Linked DNA regions of Homo sapiens: region 2 is linked to region 1. Evidence: fine-mapped expression QTL. A gene starts in region 1. The other region holds a variant in brackets. All regions are shown on one strand. Distances are from middle to middle.

Evidence for each region. PIP is the estimated chance that this variant, and not a neighbour inherited with it, causes the effect.
Region 2: its variant is the best candidate, but not a certain one, in a credible set for the expression of KCNF1 in cerebellum (GTEx, PIP 0.86).

Annotation. Positions count from the first base shown.
Region 1 is chr2:10,910,755-10,913,663 of GRCh38, forward strand. It overlaps KCNF1 (potassium voltage-gated channel modifier subfamily F member 1), which reads left to right and starts at 1,180. Exons shown (of 1, transcript NM_002236.5): 1 at 1,180-2,909. The coding sequence starts at 1,673.
Region 2 is chr2:10,961,803-10,964,711 of GRCh38, forward strand. No RefSeq gene overlaps it. Among named protein-coding and RNA genes, the nearest start is that of KCNF1, 51 kb to the left of the region's middle. The variant C/T (reference allele first, on the strand shown) is at 1,481.

The sequences.
Region 1 (2,909 bases):
TCTCCACAGCTCTCCCCTGCGCATCAACATCTCACACAGGGTGGGACACTTGTCATGGTGGACCACCCCACATGGACACGTCATCATCGCCCAGCACCGAGTTTGCATTAACATTCGCTCCTGGTGGTGAACATTCTATGGATTTTGACCATTGCATAACGACACATATCCGCCATTATGGTACGTTTCACTGCCCTAAAAATCCTCTGCTCTGCCTATTCATTCTTCCCTCCAGAATATTTTTAACACGATCTCGAGGCCATAGATGATATCAGTAATTTGCAGTATTGATGATAGTGGTGAACCGGAGGAGAGAGACACTGTTAGGAAGCTGCTGTAGTGGTTCAGGTGAGTGAGGACAGAAGGACAGCTGTGGCTGCAAAGGCTGGAAGAGAGGAGGGTGTGGGACACTGGTCAGGAAGAGACAGGCCTTGGTCAAGGAGTGAGGAACGGGGAAGCAGGAGCCACTGGACCCTAGGGGTCTGGAAGCTAGTGGCCTTGGTGTGGGACTGCAGAGAGATAGGAGGTGCCAGACGGCAGGGACTTCAAGGCAGAATTGAAATCTGCTGAACAGCAGGCGTCGGTCAGCTGGGACAGCCGGAAAGCTCGGGATCAGGAGGCGGTCAAGCTGAGCTCTGCTCTCATTCCGCCGCGTGACCTTGGGCAAGTCCCTTCCCTTCTACAGGAGGCTGGACTAGATGTCCTCCTTGTACAGCGTTGCGGGGAAGGTGAGACAGTGCCACCAACACAGCAGGGCATTGCTGGGTCGGGGGGATGGGGCAGGAAACGCTTCAAGGATCAGGCAGGATTTTCCTCCCACCAGGAAAAGCCGGCGCGGGTCTAAGGCCGGAGGAGGGACCCAGACATAGGAGTCACCTTCTAAGGGGCTTCCTGGAGCACATTTTCCTGCCCAGCAACAGGCGGCAGCATTCTCTCCCCACTAATCCTCTCCAAACAGCAGTGAGAGAGAATGCCTGCCGCTTCAAGCCAGGTCGCAACCCCTCGGTGACCCGCTGCGCCCGAGGAGGGGCCGGCGGTGCGCGGTGGTGGCGGCGGGCGCGGCAGCTGTGCCCGTCTGCCCAAGGGTTAATCCGTCCCCTGCAGCTGCCGCGCGTGCCTTGCAGAATTTCACCAGAAGAGGGTACAGTTTGAAAAGCTCCTGACGTCAGGCTGGAATTCCTATTGTGTTTAGAAAAGGCTCGGGCAAAGCCAGCCCAAGTTCGCTCTCTGCACACCTCGAGCACCTCGCGGACGGCGTGGGTCCGCCAGCTCCGGGACCTGCCGCCGCTGCCTGCGCGCCCCGGGGCGGAGGACGGTGCCAGCCGCCCACGAGGAGACCCCGCTCCCGCAGGAGGCCGAGCTGAAGCGGCGGAGCGCGCCGCCAGCCAGCCGGGGTGAGTGCCCCGGGCGAGGCCGGCGGCCGCCAAAGCCCCCGCGGGCTCGCCCGGGCGCCCGGATGCCAGCCCCGAGCCCCGCCGCCGGGTGCATGCCTCCCCCGCGGCGCGCCCCCGCAGGCTGCTGCCCGCTGTGACCGCCCTTCCCCGCAGGCGGGCGCCGGCCAGGCTCTCCCCGAGATCAGCGCACGGGTGGCACCCGCCGGACCCCCAGCGGCAGCGGCGGCGGCGGCTGCAGGGGGCGCGGGGCGGAGGCTGCGAGGGCGCGCGCGGGGAGGATGGACGGGTCCGGGGAGCGCAGCCTCCCGGAGCCGGGCAGCCAGAGCTCCGCTGCCAGCGACGACATAGAGATAGTCGTCAACGTGGGGGGCGTGCGGCAGGTGCTGTACGGGGACCTCCTCAGTCAGTACCCTGAGACCCGGCTGGCGGAGCTCATCAACTGCTTGGCTGGGGGCTACGACACCATCTTCTCCCTGTGCGACGACTACGACCCCGGCAAGCGCGAGTTCTACTTTGACAGGGACCCGGACGCCTTCAAGTGTGTCATCGAGGTGTACTATTTCGGGGAGGTCCACATGAAGAAGGGCATCTGCCCCATCTGCTTCAAGAACGAGATGGACTTCTGGAAGGTGGACCTCAAGTTCCTGGACGACTGTTGCAAGAGCCACCTGAGCGAGAAGCGCGAGGAGCTGGAGGAGATCGCGCGCCGCGTGCAGCTCATCCTGGACGACCTGGGCGTGGACGCAGCCGAGGGCCGCTGGCGCCGCTGCCAGAAGTGCGTCTGGAAGTTCCTGGAGAAGCCCGAGTCGTCGTGCCCGGCGCGGGTGGTGGCCGTGCTCTCCTTCCTGCTCATCCTCGTCTCGTCCGTGGTCATGTGCATGGGCACCATCCCCGAGCTGCAGGTGCTGGACGCCGAGGGCAACCGCGTGGAGCACCCGACGCTGGAGAACGTGGAGACGGCGTGCATTGGCTGGTTCACCCTGGAGTACCTGCTGCGCCTCTTCTCGTCACCCAACAAGCTGCACTTCGCGCTGTCCTTCATGAACATTGTGGACGTGCTGGCCATCCTCCCCTTCTACGTGAGCCTCACGCTCACGCACCTGGGTGCCCGCATGATGGAGCTGACCAACGTGCAGCAGGCCGTGCAGGCGCTGCGGATCATGCGCATCGCGCGCATCTTCAAGCTGGCCCGCCACTCCTCGGGCCTGCAGACCCTCACCTATGCCCTCAAGCGCAGCTTCAAGGAACTGGGGCTGCTGCTCATGTACCTGGCAGTGGGTATCTTCGTCTTCTCTGCCCTGGGCTACACCATGGAGCAGAGCCATCCAGAGACCCTGTTTAAGAGCATCCCCCAGTCCTTCTGGTGGGCCATCATCACCATGACCACCGTCGGCTACGGCGACATCTACCCCAAGACCACGCTGGGCAAGCTCAACGCGGCCATCAGCTTCTTGTGTGGTGTCATCGCCATCGCCCTGCCCATCCACCCCATCATCAACAACTTTGTCAGGTACT
Region 2 (2,909 bases), 51 kb after region 1:
TTCATCAACTGATTCAGCCCCCGTGCGTGAACAGCTAAGGTTTTATTCCCGTTTACTAAAGAGGTCATGGAGGGTCAGAGAAGTTAAATGACTTGTCCAATATCAAGAAGCTGTCACCTGAAGAGGTTGGATGGGCAATGGGGAAGGGACGCTCAAGGCCATCATTCCCAGGACCTTCCCTGTCGTCTTCCTGTGAACCCCGGCCACGCAAAGGGATCTCGCCCAGCCTTTCCAAAAGAGCCCCAGGCTTCGGACTACACGATTCCCCTCACAGCCACAGCTGACGAAGAGCTCCCAAGGTCCCAGCAATCTATGACACAGCTGCTGGGAAACTGCCCCCCCACACCTCCTCCAACCACGAAGCAGGCTGCATGCAGGTTCCCTCCCTCCAGAATGTGACCGTGGAACCCCCATCGAGAGAGGGAATCACAGCCTTGGTGGGAAGCGGAGAGAAACCAAGCAGAGTCAAGGCACGGGGTGGAGTTGGGACAAGCAAAAGCGGAAATTGTGATGGCAGCAGCCTGGGGACCACAGAAGGGCAGACCTGCACTGCAGCGTCACTGAGGAGCAGGGGATCCCGGCCCCTGCTGTAGACGCTGGGAGCGAGGTCCCAGCACCACTGCTGGTCCTGCCTCTGGGGTGCGACCTGTGTAGCCCCATAGGCCACCTCGCTTGGCTTAAGACTCTGCCATTGCCATCCTGAAACTCTTTACAGTTTTTGAACAAAGGACTCCACATTTTCATTAGCTGTGCTTCACAATTTATGATTTATGGCTATACCCCTATTAAAATTATGTTTTCAAAAATTATTACTGAGGCAAAATTCACATAACAAAATGTACCATTTGAACCATTTTAAAGTGTACACTTCAGTGCGTTTCAGTGCAGTCATAGATGTTGTGCCACCATGATCAATATCTGATTCTGGAATATTTTCATCAACCCATAAAGAAACTACCGTCCGTGAAGCAGTCACTCCCCATCCTCCCCTACCCCCACACCCCGACAACCATGAATCTCCTTCCTGTTCTATGGATCGACCTATTCTGGACATTTTATATAAGTGGAATTACACAACATGCGAGCTTTTGTGCCTGGCTTCTTTCACTTAGCATGGTGTGTTCGGGGTCCATGCGAGTTGCAGCATGTATCAATATCCATTCCTTTTCATAGCTGAATAAGATTCCATGGCATGGATAAACCACATATTGTTTAACCTTCCATCAGTCCATGAACATTTGCCTTGTTTCTATTTTTTTGGCTATTGTGAATAATGCTGCTGTGAACGCACAGATACAAGTGTGTGCTTGGACATATCTTTTCATCTCTTGGAAATTCACCGAGGAGTGGAATTGCTGGGTCATATGGTAGCTCTGTGTTCAACTTTTTCTTTCCAGAACAGGAATGGAAGTTTATTTATAAAGCTTTAGAACAGGAAAGAGGAAGATGCGCTTGGCAGGGATCCAAGTAGGCGCCAAGG[C/T]CCAAGAGAGAAAAGAAGAGAGAAAAAAGAGAGCTGTGTTCAACTTTGTGAGGAGCTGCCAGGCTGTTTTCCCCAGCAGCCGCACGCGTTACATTCCCACCAGCACTGTATGAGAGTTCCAATTCCCCACATCCTTGCCAACACCCATCTTCTGTCGTTTTGATTTTAGCTCTCCTAGTGGGTGTGCAGTGGTATCTTGTCGTGGTTTTGGTTTACATTTCCTAATGACTAATGATGTTGAGCATCTATTCACGTGCTTATTGGCCATTTGTGTCTTCTTTGGGAAAACATGCATTAAAGTTCTTTGCCTGTTTTTGAATTGGGTTATTTGTCTTTTCGTTGCTGACTTGCATCTCTGGGTTTTGGATTCCCCCATGAGGTTCCATCTCCCTTATTCCCCCATCCAGACCCTCACAATGGTCCACTCTCTCACCCTAAAAAGAACACAGATACAGACGTTTTACCATTTCTGCCTTCCTTCTTCTAACCCCCTAAATAGGTGCTAGTTCCTCTTCTGGGTTTTTAATTTAGGCAATCATTATTTCCCACCCAGATACTTCCCTTGGGGCAACGCTGCCCTGGCACACTGGATATTTGGGACTATTTTAAATATATCCATTAAACCTTAGCCAATTAGCATAATTCTGAGACTTCTTCCTCATTGGAATGAAAGGGAGACATTTGCCCCACGCAGCCAGGGACTCATTGAGAAACTCACCAGCAAGGGGCCATTCACAGGGCACTTCCCAGAGGAGGGAAAGTCATGGAAATGAACAGGACACCAGACACTAAGAGGTGATTCCCTTTCTTCTTAAACCTAACACAGTGCATTTTGTACTTTGAAGATTTCCAGCACTTCCAACAAGGAATAAAACAGACGGATTATAGTCCAGTTTACACTAAGTTCCTGGCAAACACGAAGAACATGTGATTTATTCTGACCAAGCGCAACAGGGAGTTTTTTTAGCAGGACTCCCTGAGACCTCGCAGAGGCTGAGAGACCATCCACTCCCCGCTCTGCTGGGTTGTAGCAACTCGGTCCATTCAGATGAAACACACACAATTCGTCATTAACTCATTCTTTCTGCATTTTTGCTCATATAAAAAAAGTCTCTTCCAGCTGTGGCAGATGCTGGAAAAGAAGAAATATAATCAACAAACTTCTGTTGCAGTTCAGGTCAGGACTAAACACCAAAGTGCCAGGGGAAATGGGTTTTGCGACCCAGCTCCCTCCCCGCTGGGTGGGGACCTCTGCTGTGCGTTCTGGAGGAGTTCCCAGAGTCCTAGAGGGATGAAGCTTCAGTTGCTCACAGTGGTGACTTGCTCGGTGACACCCCATGACCGGCTGTCCTCCCCTCCCTTCTCACTTCCTCTCACCCCTTCTGTTTCCTGGGATCACTTCCCAAATGATTTACCTGCCCCCATCCTT